4 linked regions of the Homo sapiens genome follow. The protein of the gene in region 2 purifies or fractionates together with the protein of the main gene of each other region. This does not show direct contact. Each region holds a gene or a part of one and is shown on either strand. Other genes may lie near its edges.

Region 1 (4,204 bases), on a different chromosome or scaffold from region 2:
TCGGAAGGGAGAGGGGATCGGTGGGGAGGGGGTTTGCTGGACACCAGGGCTAGACGGGGCCCTCCCCTGACCGTCAGGGTTAAGTAGGGCGCGGGCTGTGAGGACCCTCCTCCACGCAGCCCCCCGAGGCAGAGGGCCCGCAAAGCGGTCTCCATCCAACTCCACCCCGCGGACGTCCCAGGCAGCGGATGGCGGCGGGGGGGGGAGGCCAGGGGACATTTAGGGGACAAATTCCTCAGACTTCGAGGCAGCCGGCGACGGCGTCCAATTCCCAAATAAATAGAACAAACTCCTACTTGGAAAAGGCCTTCCCCGGGGTCTTCCTGCGCCCGCGGTCCAGCTCCTCTGCAGACGGCCATCGTGGGCTCTCCGCAGGGCTGCGGAGTCTCGGAGTCACCGAGGTGGGAGGTGCCGGCCACGCGCGTCCTCAGGAACAGAGCACTGCCCTGCAGTTTAGCACGAAGGGCCGGCTGGAGCGGGAGCGCGAGGCCCACTGCAAGAGGATCAGGAGCCAGTAAGTCCGGCTTTTCTTCGTCTCCACCTTTCGTGCGCCCGGGGCCAGGACCGCCTGTCCGGAATCTGACCAGTGCCCGTCCTCGCCGTGGCCCTGGGACCCCGCGGTGGTCTTCTTTTGGGGACGAACGGCAGTGCCCGAAGGATGCTCTACCCACCCCCGTTCCTAGACTTGCTGGGTCCCGACAATACCCAGTGGGTGCCGCGAGTTCCCGGGCGCAGAGTCCAGCGTCCGGCTCTCGAGCTCAATCCCGCGCCCCGACGGCCTTGGCGCTTCCCGCTGCGCTAAACTGTCCACCGCGCACAGGCTGGAAGCGAAGTCGGGCCCCCTCCTCCTGGTCTGCAGGGTCCCTCCAGGCCTTTCCTGTCCGGGCAGAGAGACAGTCACAGGGGCGATCGGAGGACGCGTGCGGGAGGGCCGGGGGCCCGCGCGGTCACGGCTTCTCGTGACAGTGTTTGCAAAGCGCGGAGGGCGTCCCGGAGAAGGCGGCGCACTTGTCAGGGCAGGGCCCCAGGGCGGCGCCTGCGGAGAAGGGGCACACAGTGGCCTGGCCGAAGGGCGTCAAGGGCGCGGCGTTTACGGGCGCGGCCAGGCCCTGGCCCTGGTTGAGGAAGGCCACCAGGCGCCGCATCTCGTCCAGGGCCTGCGCCTGCATGAGGATATAGTTCTTGGCGAGCAGCAGCGTGGCGATCTTGGAGAGCTTGCGCACCGACGGGCTGTGCGCGTAGGGGATGACGGCTCGCAGCCCGTCCAGCGCGTCGTTTAGGTCGTGCATGCGCCGCCGCTCGCGCGCGTTGATGCTGAGCCGCAGAGACCGCTGCTCTCGCGGCCGCCGCCGCCCGTCCGCCGCGCTCCCTGGCCCGCGCCGCCGCCGCCGCTGCTCGAAGGCGTCGTCCTCGTCCCCGCTCTGTTCGCCGCTGCTCTCCGCCGCCTGAGCTGGGGCGCGAGGTGCAGGCGCCGCGGGGAGGTCGCCGCCCGGGCCCGGAGTGCCGTAGCCGCGGGCCGCTTCGGGTTCTCGCGCCGCCCCGTAGGCGAGACCCGCAGCCGCCGCCGCGTAGCCGTGGCTTAGTGCCAGGTACGCGTCCCCCGACAGCGACTTGAGCTCGGCCATGGCCGCGCCGCCTGGGCTCGGGGGCTCGCCGGGTGGGCGGATGCTCATGTGGGTGAGCAGCCCCCGAGGCCGGCCCGAGCCCGCCGCTGCCGCTGCCGCTGCGATGAGGCTCCCGGCTCTGCGCGTCGGTCTGGCTTGCCTGCGGGTCCCAGAGCCTCGGCGCCCGCTGCCTCCTCCGCCTCTTCCTTCTCTCCCACCTCCTCTCCCTCCCAGCCGCGACGCGCAGGGGGCGGGCTCTACCTCCCCCTCGCCCCCGCTTCGGTTTTAAGCCGCGGAGGCGCCCGGTGGGACCTCGCTGCTGTCCAATCAGGGGGGACCGGGTGAGCTCCTCTTCCTGGAGCCGGGCTCCACCAGCGCCGCAGGCTCACAGGCCGGGGGTGGGGGCTCTGGACCGAGGGGCGGCGCGGGGCGGCGCGGGGCGGCGCGCGCGGTCCTGGAGCGCTAGTACTTGCTTCTCGACTCCCCGGCCGCCGCCTCCGGCCGCCCCGGGGATTCCGCCACCAAACGCACGCGTCCCAGGTGGGCACCCGCCTCGGTCCGTCTTTGAGTCTGACCCTAGCGCAAGAGTCCCTGGCGACACGCAGGGGCCAGAGCGGGGGGGCGCGCCGCAATAGCAGCAGCGCCAGCGCCAACACCCTGTCCCGCTGAGGGGCCGCTTCGGGTCGGGGTCAGGGTCGTGGGCGCTCTGGTGCAGCCGCGGCGCAGCGTGTACCCGGAGCCCGCACACTCCCTGCTCGGGGCGCCCTGTGGCCAGGCTTGAGGGGCAGAGTGAGAGGGAGTTTCTAGAACCTGTTGAAAAACGCCACGAGCGTTGCAGGCCGGGGAGGGCGGGAAGGTGGAGGGCAGCGCGGCCTGGGGCTCCCCGGGGGTGGGAGGGGAGCTCTGTGAGCTGCAGGACCGCCTCTTCCCTGCCAGCCGCTTCCTGGGCATCTATCAGCGAAACGCGTGAGGCTTGGTGGGCTTTCCCGGAGCCTCCGAACCCCTGGGGTCCAGCCACACTGGATGGGAATGTGGCCAGCCTCGGACTCGCCTTTTCAGTCCTCTTCCAACCCCGCATGAAGGCCAGAACCCCAGCCCTTCTCCCAGGTGGGAACCTGCCTGGAGGCCCGGCCGAGTGCTGAGGCTAGAGTGTGCTGAGGGATAGTGGCTTCTCCGGTCCTGGCTTGGGTGGGAGACTGGGCCACCCTGGCCTATGGCACGAGGTGGAGCGGCCCGTCGGGCCCTTCTGTGTGACCTGGGAAGGGCCGCATACCCTCCCTGTTCTCCAGGCTCCGCCCCAGGAGGAGCCACAGCGATGGGGCAGTGTGCGCAGCCCCGGGAGGGGAGTGGGAGCTGCACGTGTGTGGGGCGGATGTGCTGTCTGGAAGGTTCTGGGAACGCAGCAGTGACCGGCCTGTCCGGTGGTTCCCTGCCAGGTGCGGGGTGTGAGGAGACAGATGCATGGATAAGTCTCCGTGGGAAACTCAGGCCTTTGTCCTGGCGGAGGGGAATGGGTCTGAGGCAGCCTCTGCCGGGCTGGCGGCCTGTCTGGCTGCGCGTCCTGCAGCACCGGCCTCACCCCCAGCACACGCCCGCCAGGAGCGCAGGGGCCCCGAGGATGGAAGCGTCTGTCTGAGGCGCTGTCCTGGGACCCCACCCCGCCTTCGGGGCTGATGCACAGACCGGGAATTGAGGATACCTGGTGTGGAGGAGGCCGCTGTGTTTGGGCCTGGGTCTGAAGGGTGAGTGGGTGTCATTGTGGCCACGGGCCGGGGTCGGGGGAGCATTCAGGTGGCCGGAGGAGGCCTGGCACAGGGAAGGGCAGTGAGGGGCCCGGGTGGGGCCAGGAGATAGAGGGGCGGGACCAGGCCTGTGGGACAGTTTGAATCACGCGGGGAGTTTGGTCTTTATGGGAAGAAAGGCGCCGTGGCCATTCGGAGAGCCACTCTGGCACTGCTGCCGGTGCGGTCCGGGGCTGCGGGGCCTCCTCCTGGGCCTGAACTGCAGGGCTGGTGGGGGCCATGGGGGAAGGTGGCTCCACAGGTCCCCGGAGCTGGGGGAGCAGGAGGATGGGGTTGACCAGGAGGGAAAGCTATGGAGCTGGAGAATGCAGGAGGCCCCCGAGGGGAGGTGCAGCCAGCGCTGGTGGGGAGGCCTCTGAGGGGTACGCGGTAATTGACATCACGGGTGTGGGTGAGAGTGGCTTTCAAAGCATCGGCTGGAGCAGGGTCCCCATTAAAGCCAGAGACGCTGACGCCATGGGGCTGGGGTTGGGGCTGGGCCGGGGCTTTGGGAGGTCCGAACTCCCCAGCAGGGAGCCAGGGCTCTGGGCCAGTTCCCAGGCCCAGTTAATCTTCAGTAGAATCGATCGACCTTGGCTCAGAGGGTTGGAGGCAGGGATGGGCAGGGGGTGAGGGGTGAGGCGCACGAAACAGCACCCGGGTGAGGCCCCTGCTGCGGCCCCTGCGGGACCAGCCACGAATTCCGGGCTTCAGCCCCGCCAGCTTCAGAGGCGGCGTTTTCGGTGCGACGCTGCCACCTGCTGGCTGTCTGGGAGTTGCACCCAGAGGCTCAGAACCCGTGTTTCTCAGAGGGCCCGG
Region 2 (4,454 bases):
ACAACGCAGAAAGACCAGGGAAGAGGCTCTGGATGGAGATGCCCACACAAAAATAATAGGGACTTGGACCAGGATGTTGGCTGTGCAGATGGAGAGAAGTGATTAAATTCAAGCTATATTTAGGAGGTAGAACTGTCTGCTTTTGCCGATGTATTGGATGTGGAGAGGGAGGAAGAAGACATTGCTACAGATGAATTACAGGTTACAGGCTTCGGCTATTAGATGGATGAGGGGCAGACTAAGGGACAGATGGGGAGGCAGGGAAGAAAATCGGGAACTTCGTTTTGGACATGGTAAGGTTGAGATGCCTGAGACACATGAGAGTGAAGGTGAGACGTAGGCACTTGGGTATATAAATCTTGAGCTCAGAGGAATGTAGTGTGTTTTCCCCTGTCCCGAAAAGCTGTGGTATAGCAATAGTGAATCTTATCATCAGTGGAATATTATAGTGATAATAATTATAGCTGATACTTAGGGGCCTCTAAACTTCTTCCAGGTGATGAAATAAACTGTCTCTGTGTATTACTTCATTTAATTCTCACAGCAACTATCTTTGGAATTTATCACTTTTATCTCCATTTCATAGACAAGGAAACTGAGTGTTGGAAGGTGAAGTGAATTGCCTAAAGTCACCAGTTCAGCAAATGGGAAATGTAGGACTTGACACCAAGACTGTTTGGCCCCAGAGGCTATGCTCTGAACCATAATGACTTCCTGTCTTCCAAAAGGCAGGCTCTTGGATCCATATCTTACTGTGCTTCTAAATTATCCTGTGACCCTGAACCTTAGTTTGCTCACCTGGGAAATGAAGGGAGGTCCTGGTTAGGTTCCCTTCAGTTCTACTCTATTGCAGTATGCTGATCTCTTTTGTAAATCTGTATTAAATGAGAGTTTGCTATCGGTGACTTTCAGAGATGACACCAGTGATGATGCCCATGCTGACGATTCATTCTGATGTCTATGAAAAGAGCAAATCCTTTAAGAGAAGATGTAGCATACCAGTGTTTATAATCTGAGTTTCATTTGATTAAGAGGGGAAGCTCTTTAGAACAAATATCATTTCTGAGCGAGAGAATGTTCAGCATCTCAGCCTCATTTGTATCATTTGATAAAAGGGCCCCACTGAGCCAAGTGTGAGGATGATGCTTGAGCCAGACACATAGACACCAGACATTCCTCTGATGTCTGCTCCCCAGGCTTGGCCACATTGCCTCCCACCAACCCCATCTCAATGACACATCCATTACCTGCCATCAGTTGGCTCTATGGTGCTGGGAATGACAGAGTGTATCTACCCTGGATTTCAGAAAGAACCCTCCTGGCTTATCATGGCAACACCCTTTGGACACTCGTTTAAAGAGTCCTTCTTTGGGCCAGTGTTATCCTTTTGGGGGCATCTGGTATGGACGGCCAATTTGAATCTGACTGGGACATGCTAATGAGCCATTCATATGTGTGGGATTTGTTTCTGATTCGATTAAGCTTCAGAGAGAGGAAAGAAACAGCCACTGATTAGAGACATAAAAAAAGAAATACTTTAAGTGAGTAAGTGGTTCATCTTCATATAGGAAAGTATAAATTAAACATGGTCCAGGAGATGTGCTTTGAATAGCAGCTGGATAGCACAAGCATGTCCACAAGGAGACGGTGCCTCACAGCAATTGAAAGGGACTTAACCCCCAAAAAGGGCTCTGAATATGCTGAGTAAATAGATGAGCCCAGTTAGCTGATAAAAATGACTCTCAGATTAGAGATGGGAAGGTTTTTATTTGGATTTTAGAAAATTGCTCCCCACTCCATCGCCGCCATATTGTCTGTGTGAGCAGAAGGGAGAGCGGCCACAGCCGCTGCCGCTTCCACCACAGTGTGAAGAAAACAGGTCTGAAACAAGGTCTTACCCCCAAGCTGCTTCTGAACACAGTGACTGCCAGATCTCCAAACATCAAGTCCAGCTTTGTCCGCCAACCTGTCTGACATGTCGGGACCCGTGCCAAGCAGGGCCAGAGTTTACACAGATGTTAATACACACAGACCTCGAGAATACTGGGATTACGAGTCACATGTGGTGGAATGGGGAAATCAAGATGACTACCAGCTGGTTCGAAAATTAGGCCGAGGTAAATACAGTGAAGTATTTGAAGCCATCAACATCACAAATAATGAAAAAGTTGTTGTTAAAATTCTCAAGCCAGTAAAAAAGAAGAAAATTAAGCGTGAAATAAAGATTTTGGAGAATTTGAGAGGAGGTCCCAACATCATCACACTGGCAGACATTGTAAAAGACCCTGTGTCACGAACCCCCGCCTTGGTTTTTGAACACGTAAACAACACAGACTTCAAGCAATTGTACCAGACGTTAACAGACTATGATATTCGATTTTACATGTATGAGATTCTGAAGGCCCTGGATTATTGTCACAGCATGGGAATTATGCACAGAGATGTCAAGCCCCATAATGTCATGATTGATCATGAGCACAGAAAGCTACGACTAATAGACTGGGGTTTGGCTGAGTTTTATCATCCTGGCCAAGAATATAATGTCCGAGTTGCTTCCCGATACTTCAAAGGTCCTGAGCTACTTGTAGACTATCAGATGTACGATTATAGTTTGGATATGTGGAGATTGGGTTGTATGCTGGCAAGTATGATCTTTCGGAAGGAGCCATTTTTCCATGGACGTGACAATTATGATCAGTTGGTGAGGATAGCCAAGTTTCTGGGGACAGAAGATTTATATGGCTATATTGACAAATACAACATTGAATTAGATCCACGTTTCAATGATATCTTGGGCAGACACTCTCGAAAGCGATGGGAACGCTTTGTCCACAGTGAAAATCAGCACCTTGTCAGCCCTGAGGCCTTGGATTTCCTGGACAAACTGCTGCGATATGACCACCAGTCACGGCTTACTGCAAGAGAGGCCATGGAGCACCCCTATTTCTACACTGTTGTGAAGGACCAGGCTCGAATGGGTTCATCTAGCATGCCAGGGGGCAGTACGCCCGTCAGCAGCGCCAATGTGATGTCAGGGATTTCTTCAGTGCCAACTCCTTCACCCCTTGGACCTCTGGCAGGCTCACCAGTGATTGCTGCTGCCAACCCCCTTGGGATGCCTGTTCCAGCTGCCACTGGCGCTCAGCAGTAACGGCCCTATCTGTCTCCTGATGCCTGAGCAGAGGTGGGGGAGTCCACCCCCTCCTTGATGCAGCTTGCGCCTGGCGGGGAGGGGTGAAACACTTCAGAAGCAACGTGTCTGAACCGTTGCTTGTGGATTTATAGTAGTTCAGTCATAAAAAAAAATTATAATAGGCTGAAAAAAAAAAAAAAGAAAATTGCTCCCCAAATCCCTATGACATTTAAGCTCATTGTCATTCTCTGGCAGCACCAGTGACAGTAATGGGGGCCAGAGATCCTATTTCAAAACAAAGAAGTGATTACAGTAGATAGCGCAGGTGTCAATGGGACCCTGATTTGGAACTTGCTAATACTTCTGTCTCTGAGTTTGGGGCTTCTATAGGGTTTTGGTTCCATAGATATGCCTGGACTTGAACTAGCTTACCTTCCCAGCCTTGTGCATCGGGAAGCTGTGAGGGTCAGATCCTTCTAGATTTTGTGTCCCCTTACAAGGGTTGGAAGAGTCTGGCTGCAGCCCTGGCCTCACCAGCTGGCTCCCTCTTGCGTAAGTGGAGTTGCCACAGGGCTTCTGTCTGTGGCTTTCCAAGGAACCTGGAGCTGTATGTCATCTTCAAACCTGGACCTTTCCTCTACCACCCTGGCTAGCTTCACCCTTGGTTTCCTGCCCTCTGCTCTGGTTCTGAGTTTGAACCAAACTCTCACAGCAGCCCGATGTGCAGGAGTCCAAATGTCCTGCCTGCCCCTTGCAGCTCCCTCTCTCACCCCTTGGGGCTAGATCTGCTCCCTGCATCCTCAGCCTCTAGTGGGGTACTGCTTTGAATGAACTCATCAGCTGGAATTGGGAAGCGGTCACCTTCCAGACACTCCATCTGTCCCTATACCTGGAGCTTTCTCATATGAGCCCCACACAATAGATTGAACCTCTGGAAACTGGTGCCTGCAGGGACCATGCCTCTTTGGTCACCTTGCCTCTTTACATACTGGCAGCATCACAGACTGAAACAGCAGCTCTCAGAACTGCTGGAAATAGAGGTTACCCAGGAAATGTCCTATTTTGCTCACACAGTCCCCTGAAGGCTGGCTGGGAGGCTCTCCTGTGCAGCTTTTCTCCAAGTAGTGACTTGGGGACTCTGATTGCTTCTCTTGTGGGTTCAGCATCTTTGAACTTCAAGTTCACCCTGGCTTAAACATCCAGCAGATGGTGGGGTGGGGAGTAGAAGTGCACCTAAGGAGACACACTGGATAGTCACCTGCCTTCCCCGGGAAGTGGCAGAGGCCATGTCCTCTCTCATCTCATCGATTTGCACCCTCCT
Region 3 (4,678 bases), on a different chromosome or scaffold from region 2:
ACTTCCAGTCCCGCAAGTGCCCAATATAGGTGTACCAATTTTTCTTTTATATTGCATTTTTACTGTACCTTTTCTATGCTTCACTATGTTTAGAAACACAAATACTTACCATTGTGTTAATCACTCTTATAGTATTCAGTATATAGTATTCTCTTATAGTAACATGCCATACAAGTTTGTAGCCTAGGAGCAACAGGCCATACCATATAGCGTAGGGGTAATAGGAGGCTATACCACCTAGGTCTGTGTAAGTACCCTTTATGATGTTTGTACAACAATGACATCACCTAACAGGGCATTTCTCAGAATGCATCCCATCATTAAGCAATGCACGACGGTATTATACGCTGTAAATAACTGTATGTGCTATACTTCTATGACTGGCAGCACAGGTGTGTTTACATTAGTATCACTACAAACATGAATCATATGTTGCGCTATGATGTCATAAGGTAGCAAGTTTTTCAGCTCAATTATATTCTTATGGGACCACTGTCGTAGATGTAGTTCATCACTGACCAAAATGTCGTTATGTGGTGAATGACTGCGGTAAAATTCAGGGCCCACGATGTTTTAGTGCAATTAGACAATTACAAGAGATAAAGCTATATCTTTTATTCCTTTCCTCATTATGGATAAATTTTCATAGAAAAAAGGCAAATCTCCATTTTTTCCTCTGATTAAAGTACAGTGTAGTATCAGATTCAGCGCTGATCAAAAGAAAGACTGATTTGAAAAGTTGGCTTTCTTCTATAAGCCTTGCTGTTCCTTCTCAACCAAGAACACTTCAAAAGAGCTAATGAAGTAATAGCTGCTTTGATTCAAATCAAGAAGTTAAATAAAAATGTCCTACAGACTGTGAGGAGGGTGAGGTATTTAAAAGCCAATAATACATTATAGAATATACTGATATCAAAGAGCAACTTTCAGAATTATGATTGTTAACACCTATGCAGTCAGTCCTTTGATGAAGGCAGGTGAACTGACATGCTTGGTAAGAGATTATCTTTTCTCCCTAGAAACCTACTTGTTTCAGATACTGGTTTGAACCATGATGAAATACTCTGCTTCTCCTCAAAGCTCAACTCTTCTTTAGTATTCAGCTATGAGGCTTTCAGATTGATAAAACTGAATTAAATAAATGATGTGTCCCACTGGAAAGCATTCTCATTCTAAGACTGCTGGTTAGTAACTTTGCCTGGGGTATTTAAAAAAAAAAAAAAAAAAAAAAAAAAGTCAAATATCTGAGTACTAATTTCCTGAAAAGTATGTTCCGATAGATGAACAGATCATTAATGCAGAATGAGAATCACTCCTAAAATAGGTAATGGTAAAAATTAAATTGACAATTACCTCTCTCTATGCAGAAGGAAATATCACCTATATGACATCATCATCATCTATTGATACTTGCTGGCAGTGCTAATATTGTTTTTAATGCCAATTTGTAAGAAGTTTTATCTCTCTGTCACTGACATCCTACAGAGTCACTTCCCCAGGCCTCCCATAGAAGTTGGGTGCCATCAACATAGGGAAATAAGAAAAGCTTAAATGTAAGGAAGGGTCTTGTCTTTTTCTGTGCAGAAAAAACAAGAATGGCAACACAGATGCAGAAAAATAGAGCCAGAGCACTTTTAGGGGAAATGGTGGGATACAGCAGGCTTCGTAACTTTTAAGTAACAAAATTTTGTTTCTTCTTACACCTCAAGTTTTAGTCCAATGACAAAAAAGGACAAAAAGTTTTTCTTAGTCTTCCCACTGGTCAGGAAAATATGAAATGCAATTTTGACACTTTCGATGTTTGGCACTTGCCCGCAATCACTGCACCGCTATAAAAGGCCTAGAGCTGAAAAGGGAGTATACCAAGCATGCTGCCATCTGAGGAAGTCTCCTGTGCCACTTACCTGGTTTTTCGTAAGTGATGGGTCCCACAGTCCTACATCCTCCCATGTAGTGTTTTTCAAATAAAAGTCATTAGGTTCAAATTGTTTAAAATCCTAGAAAACAGTGAAATAAGTTTACAAAAACATAGTGGTATAAACGCTAACCCAATCTTACATGTAAATCTCACCTCTTAACTAAGATGGGGAGAGGCACAGGAAAACCAACGTCAACAAGGACTTAAACTAGGAGTGATAAGGCTCTTAAATATAAAAAGGCATATGGAAGTTGCAGTCTACATTTTATATCAACCAACCACTTTCCTGATGGTCAGTCAGGTTTCCAAGGAAATTGCTGGAAGTTCTAATTAAGTAAAAAATTCAGCCACACACTAATATCAAAGCACTTTTCATTAGAGTACTGTACTCTAACTCGTCAGTTACAGTACTGGAATGGTGTCTAAAATAGCAATGTTTGCTTACAGCACTGCAAATATGATTTCTGGTTCTGTGCAAAAAAAAGATTTTTTTCGAGGGGAGGGGGCAGGAGATCAGATCAGGAAGAAAACTCAAATTTCAAACCCAAAAAGGCAGAAAGAAAGCTATTCAAAGAAAGTTAAGCAGTATGATGTTAAATTTATACTCTCATGTAAAAATTTAATGGTCCACTTCCCTCCAGACTAGGAAGATTAAAAGTCTTAGGGTAAAATCCCACTTGTTCCTAAAAAGTTCACAGTTCAAGGTGGAAAATGAAGTCTACACATAAATAATCATAGGAGGAACAAATCAAATGCATGACAGAAATGTACTGTGATGTTGGTATTAATTATTTCTATGAAGATGACCCCACAGAGTGCAAAGTGAATGGACTGTTTCATTTGGGCAGATCTACCTGAACTCTGGGGTTGGAGAAGGGCTACTTCCACACTTGGAACAACGTGACTAGAGAAGTCAACTTTTGAGCAGCTTCTGTTTCCATGCCATACTCTTCAAGTATTATTAGTGGAACTCAAATTAAGAAAACCTGTTGTATGAATGAATTTGCTTTTTTACTTCCAATTCCATTCAAACACTTACTGATCACCTATTACGTGCAAAACACTGTGCTAGGTGCTGGGGCTAAATGGATAAACAAGGTAGCTATGTTCCCTAGCCACCTAGAACTTAAAGGTTAGTGGGGGAAACAGCTTCAAACATTTCTTTTCAATCAGGGGCTCTGACCAACAAACCATAAGACCTGGAACAGTGAGATGTTGAAAAGGAGACCACTGCATGGCTATCCCACAGAGCTGTTATAAAGCTCATAGAATAAAACAGCTTGAAAAACAGTTCATAAAGCCCAAACTGTTATACAAGGGGGAAAGTAATAGTCTATGATGGGTCAAAAGGGGCAACAAATGCTCAAATCCTAAGGAAAGAGACAACAAGCACCCACACAAGCACGCCTCAACAATTAGAAGAAGGTCAACCAGAACATTCAGGCGTATCAGAATGAGAACAGGCTTTGAGTCCCACAGACACTGCCACTTTCTCAGCTGCAAGGCTGGGCCTATTTATTTGTTCTTCATCTGTGAAGTGGAGATAAGAACTGCTACACTGCCTCCCGCCTCCATGGTTGTTCTAAGGATTAAATGTATAGACAACTTTACGGCACCTAGTTCAACGCCTGACATGCTTAAGTCCTCAATGGTAGCCTTCTGCTTCAGGATGCAAAAATGAAAAAGCCCATTTTAGGGAGAAAGGCACAAGTTAATGCTATTGAGAATGTTTTCGTGAAGCTACTGCTGTGGCTGAAATTCAGAATCACATCTAAGATTTAGCCATCTTGGCCACTGACACAAAGTAATGGATCAGAAGCTGAGTCATGTTAAAATTTAAAAATGACATGCTACTTACTTCTATATGTTCTTTACAGTATTCCAACCCAATGTCACTAAGTATTTTTTTCACAGTTTTCCGGGCTTTTCTTAAACTGCCAAGATTGTTGACAGGAAGTTGGAACATAGTTTCTATTGGAAAAAAAAATTTAAGTCAAAGTCAAAACACGTACAACTTGTAATATTTACTAATTCCACTGATGATAGGATCATAAAACCTACCCATCTGACAAAAAAGGTGCATAGATATCCTCATCTAGTGTGTACACACACAGACACACACCTGCTTTCATGTGCATATGGCTTGATATATCCATCCATCCATCCTTCCTTCCTTTTCTTAAGACAGAGTCTTACTCTGTCGCGCAGGCTGGAGTGCAGTGCACTCATGGTTCATTGACTGCAGTGCACTCACGATTCACCATAGCCTCAACCTTCTGGGCTCAAGTGATCCTCTCACCTCAGCTTCTCAAGAGGAAGGGACTCCAGGAGTGCGCCACTATGCCCAACTAATTTTTAAAATTTTTTTGTAGAGACTAGGTCTCACTATGTTGCCAAGGCTGCTCACAAACTCCTGGACTCAAGCCATCCTCCTGCCTTGGCACCCCAAAGTGCTGGGATTATAGGCGTGAGCCACTGAGCCGAGCACATATCTACTATATTTTGAATACTTAAAGCAGGCAGGCAAAATAAGTACTCTCTGATTTTCCCAGTTTTTAACAGGACATTTTGACTATGAGTCTAATCTGGCATAATTCTGATAAGACTTAACAACAGTTCAGTAATGAACTTCAAGATGAAAATTAGAGAAATACTAGCAATCAATTATTTTTAAATCAAGTGTTAGTGCTTTTCTCATTTTGATGTTGAACATCTGAAAACAGAAAAATGCTTACCAGTTCATCATCATTACAGTTTTGA
Region 4 (4,678 bases), on a different chromosome or scaffold from region 2:
TCCCACCTCATAGGGTTGTTGTGTGAGAATGAAATGAAATAATATATGTAAAACACTTAGAAATGAGCCTGGCAAATAGTAAATGCGCAAATGTTAGAAGCTGTTTGTATGCATCACATTATAAATGGCAAATCCAGTTGAATCACAATGTGTGTTGTTTTTAGGTTATTAAAATGAAACGACAAAAGTTGAAAGCTGTTATAAGGAACTTGCAAAAGCCTGAAATTATTGACTGTTGGAGACTATACATGATTGTAGAGACTATATAGACTATGGGTCAGCAAACTATAACCAGCTATAACCTGATTCTATAAATAAAACTTTATTAGAACACAGCCATACCCATTTATTTATGTATTGCTTGTGGCTATTTTTGCATTATAGTGGCAAGTTGAGTAGTTTTGGGAGACCCAATGGCCTGCAAAGCCTAGAATATTTACTAGCAGGCCAGTTACATAAAAGCCTACTCCTGCTGTAGGCTCTAGAAGCTCTGTATGACTGTTGAGAATATTTCAATCCCTAGGTGCCTCTAGATCTCGATTTTAGAAATGATTGCCTGTGGTCTTCATAAGACGGGTGCAAATCTGAATTGCCTGTGATGTTTAAAAAATAAAACCAGATACCTTGGCTGTATGTCACCCCAACTAATTTAAAATCTTTGGGAATTGGGTTTTAAAAGGACAGGTATAATTTATAAAAATTCCCAAAGAATGCTTATGCTTATTCTTGCTGACTACTGGATAATTTTCATACTGGTAATATAGTTTAATGCTCTTAAAAAAGGAAAGCCTAAGAGATTGCTTCAGAATGAAGTAATGATGGGCCCTTTGAAACCAGTGAGGCTCCAATTTGAATGCGAATGTAGTTTGTGCTTCACTGGGTTAAGAGATTAGTGTGGCCTAAATAAATGCATGGTGTTGGTTAAACTTTCACGTATATTACTAATCCTGAAACTACCTGTCTGTCTTTCTAACTGCCTCTTATATGACAGTGACTGGTTAGGGCACGTGGTGAATAGAAGATTTCATGTTTCTTTTTTTACTTAGAGATTAGTGGGCGAAGAGGGGACTGAGAAAGTTCTTTCTGTATCTGCTGTAGGAAAACTGGCTCTAGAAAAGGGGTAGGAGTGGGCCAGCGGATAGGGATTTAAACAGAACTTTTCCATAATTATACAGAAAAATATAAAAATACTGGGATCTTTCATTGCTCATAAGCTTATTCTATCTTGGAAGTAATTCCTATGTTTAATAAAAGAACTTATATAAGAAGAGGCCTAAAATGAATCAATATTTAAAACTGTAATATCTTGGATAGGAAAATTAGCTTTGAAACATTTTGTAATCATTAATTTTTGTCGAATTTAGAATGAATTGTCTGTTATAGAAAATGAGGTTACTGTGGTTAAGACTGACTATTTTCTTTTTTCTTTCTCTAAAAAATGAAGGCATTTCAGTAGAACCATGGAGGAGCTGGTTCATGACCTTGTCTCAGCATTGGAAGAGAGCTCAGAGCAAGCTCGAGGTGGATTTGCTGAAACAGGAGACCATTCTCGAAGTATATCTTGCCCTCTGAAACGCCAGGCAAGGAAAAGGAGAGGGAGAAAACGGAGGTCGTATAATGTGCATCACCCGTGGGAGACTGGTCACTGCTTAAGTGAAGGCTCTGATTCTAGTTTAGAAGAACCAAGCAAGGACTATAGAGAGAATCACAATAATAATAAAAAAGATCACAGTGACTCTGATGACCAAATGTTAGTAGCAAAGCGCAGGCCGTCATCAAACTTAAATAATAATGTTCGAGGGAAAAGACCTCTATGGCATGAGTCTGATTTTGCTGTGGACAATGTTGGGAATAGAACTCTGCGCAGGAGGAGAAAGGTAAAACGCATGGCAGTAGATCTCCCACAGGACATCTCTAACAAACGGACAATGACCCAGCCACCTGAGGGTTGTAGAGATCAGGACATGGACAGTGATAGAGCCTACCAGTATCAAGAATTTACCAAGAACAAAGTCAAAAAAAGAAAGTTGAAAATAATCAGACAAGGACCAAAAATCCAAGATGAAGGAGTAGTTTTAGAAAGTGAGGAAACGAACCAGACCAATAAGGACAAAATGGAATGTGAAGAGCAAAAAGTCTCAGATGAGCTCATGAGTGAAAGGTGACTTTTATATTCTCTAAATATAAAAATATTTATCTCCAGTGTTTGTGGTTGAATGTTTTATATTTTAATTAATTCTATTTTAAAATAATTATAAATTGTAATAATGATAGTGATATTACTGTTTAGCTATGGTTATATTTCCTTATACTTTATGATGTTTAGCACAAAGCAAAATTGCTTGTTTGATTTACACAAAGTCTTTTGATTGTATTATAATGACTCAATTTTCAGCTACAAGGAGGAAAGGAAATGGATTTTCAGTGGAAAAGAATGTGCTTTTGAATAACAGCACGTTTGTAACTCAGAATTGGATATATAATTATATGTTTAATTATAGACCTTTAGCTTTTGGTACTTTATAGAGTGTCACAATTCATTAATCTATCCTGATTCTTGAACATCAAAAGTTTATACCACTTCGACATGTCTGTGGCTTGACATAAAAAATCTGGAGCTTTCTAGGAATTCTGATCACTTATGAATTTTAAAACCCAATTTATAGTCTAGAAACACCTGGTTTTGTCATTAGAAAAATAGGAAAAACAATGGTCCTGTGGTAGTAAATCTAATCTGTCAATAATTGTTAAGTACTATTTTGACAGCATCAAAAGGTAAGTGATCATTTTTCTTTTATACTGAAATGATGAAGTGATGCTACTTGCAAGAAATGAGAATGTATTAACACTTTTTCCTTTTAGGCATGGGTCCGCAAAACCGAATGCTGAACTATGAGCCAGAAAAAAACAGTCTGTAAATATGGCCTGAGAAAGAGTAATTGATTTTTAATTTATAGGGCTGCTATCTTTTTTTTTTTTTCGAGATAGAGACTCACTCTGTTTCCCAGGCTGGAGTGCAAGGGTGTGATCTCAGCTCATTGCAACCTCCACTTCCTGGGTTCAGGTGATTCTCCTGCCTCAGCCTCCGGAGTAGCTGGGATTACCTGTGTGCACCACCATGCCTGGCGAATTTTTTTTGTATTTTTAGTAGAGACGGGGTTTCACCATGTTGGCCAGGCTGGTCTTCAACCCCTGACCTCAAGTGATCCACCCACCTTGGCCTCCCAAGGGCTGGGATCATTTTAATCATGTGAATTGTGGTGAGCTATCAATCTTTTATTTGGTTTTTATTTTTTATTTTGTTTTTTTGGGGTTTTTTTGCTTGTAAATGAGTGGGACCTGGTAAAAGTTTATGGAATTATCCTTTTATTAGACATGGTGTGCTAGTCATATAATTTTTCTAAAGAAGTAAAAATTACTTACATTAAAAAATTGTGGCTGAGCATGGCGGCTCATGCCTTTACTCCCAGCACTTTGGTAGGCTGAGGCTGGTGGATCACCTGAGGTCAGGAGTTTGAGACCAGCCAGACCAGTATGGTGAAACCCCGTCTCTAGCAAAAATAGAAAAATTAGCCGAGTGTGGTGATGTGCGCCGAGTCCCAGCTACTCAGGAGGCTGAGGCAGGAGAATTGCTTGAACCTGGGAGGCGGAGATTACAGACATCCAAGATCGTGCCACTGCGACAGAGCAAGACTCTATCTCAAAAAAAAAAAAAAAAAAAAGTTTCCAGAGGGCTTTGAAAAGTTTATGGTATCTGTTTTTCTTGCAAGAAAATTGTCATTCTTATATGGAAATAAGTATTATTTGTATTAGGCCATTGTGACTTAAGACCATTCAACCTTACTTGAAAGTAATTGTCTGACTCAATTACCGGGAGGGAGAGTATGTGGCAGCTGATATAACATACTCAATTCTGGATTATTTACAATTAGATTACCTGCTTTTTGGATTCATTGTGCAAGCTCCCCCCCTTTTTTTTAGTTCTCCTTTTATTGATCTGCTTTTTTATAGGACATGTAACTGGTAATGGATATGAGATCAAACTCTCATTTTTCATTTCTTTTCATTGTAAAAAGTATTTGAGTATCTACTAGGCATGAACAGGCTACCTAGCAGTCCACAAACAGCCCAGGTACACGTTTTCAGAGTATGTTTTTACTCTTGAATAAATGTTAAAAAATATATTTTCTCTGATTTGAAACTTATTTATAAACTATTTTCTGTTGTCACTTAAAAGTTAGGTGCAAATTCCTTCTGTGCAAAGATTGCTAAATATTTAAGGTATTTTGGTAACAAGTATAAGCGTTTTCAAGACTACTTCCAAAGCTTTCCTACTACAAAAAGCTTTATATTTCCTTGGGGTTGATTTATAAATAAGAGAAACTTCAGTGTGGGGGGCTGTGTGTGTGTGTCAGATTTAACAAACATTGATGATTAACTACAATTTACTCTTCACTGGTGGCACCTGGACTAATAATGGAGACTCTGTTCTCAACAGCTGCATAGTCTGGGATAGCCAGGCAAGCAAATGATGAAAATGAAATGTGCTGAGTGGAAAGTATTAGTGAGGGAAGACTTGCTAAGGGAACTGTGCTTTAAAGCAAGTAGTAAGACTTGTTCAGGAATTGAGGAAGTCAAGAGAAGAGAGGGAAATGGCATTCATAGGTAGAGAGGGAGC

Evidence for each region. Proteins that work in one complex are often made in the same cells at the same time.
Region 1: the proteins of CSNK2A3 (region 2) and BHLHE23 purify together in Homo sapiens (co-immunoprecipitation; one large-scale study listed by IntAct). This does not show direct contact.
Region 3: the proteins of CSNK2A3 (region 2) and ADNP purify together in Homo sapiens (affinity purification with mass spectrometry, with the first as the bait; one large-scale study listed by BioGRID). This does not show direct contact.
Region 4: the proteins of CSNK2A3 (region 2) and GPATCH2 purify together in Homo sapiens (affinity purification with mass spectrometry, with the first as the bait; one large-scale study listed by BioGRID). This does not show direct contact.

Annotation. Positions count from the first base shown.
Region 1 is NC_000020.11:63,005,102-63,009,305, forward strand, and holds BHLHE23 (class E basic helix-loop-helix protein 23), read right to left. Parts: upstream 1,864-4,204; 5' UTR 1,674-1,863; coding exon 948-1,673; 3' UTR 826-947; downstream 1-825. UniProt on the Homo sapiens protein: May function as transcriptional repressor. May modulate the expression of genes required for the differentiation and/or maintenance of pancreatic and neuronal cell types. May be important for rod bipolar cell maturation.
Region 2 is NC_000011.10:11,350,641-11,355,094, reverse strand, and holds CSNK2A3 (casein kinase II subunit alpha 3), read left to right. Parts: upstream 1-1,844; 5' UTR 1,845-1,975; coding exon 1,976-3,151; 3' UTR 3,152-3,153; downstream 3,154-4,454. UniProt on the Homo sapiens protein: Probable catalytic subunit of a constitutively active serine/threonine-protein kinase complex that phosphorylates a large number of substrates containing acidic residues C-terminal to the phosphorylated serine or threonine.
Region 3 is NC_000020.11:50,900,113-50,904,790, forward strand, and holds part of ADNP (activity-dependent neuroprotector homeobox protein), read right to left. Parts: 5' UTR 4,654-4,678; intron 3,890-4,653; coding exon of another isoform or gene 3,885-3,889; coding exon 3,777-3,884; intron 1,998-3,776; coding exon 1,905-1,997; intron 1-1,904.
Region 4 is NC_000001.11:217,617,266-217,621,943, reverse strand, and holds part of GPATCH2 (G patch domain-containing protein 2), read left to right. Parts: intron 1-1,444; coding exon 1,445-2,161; intron 2,162-4,678. UniProt on the Homo sapiens protein: Enhances the ATPase activity of DHX15 in vitro.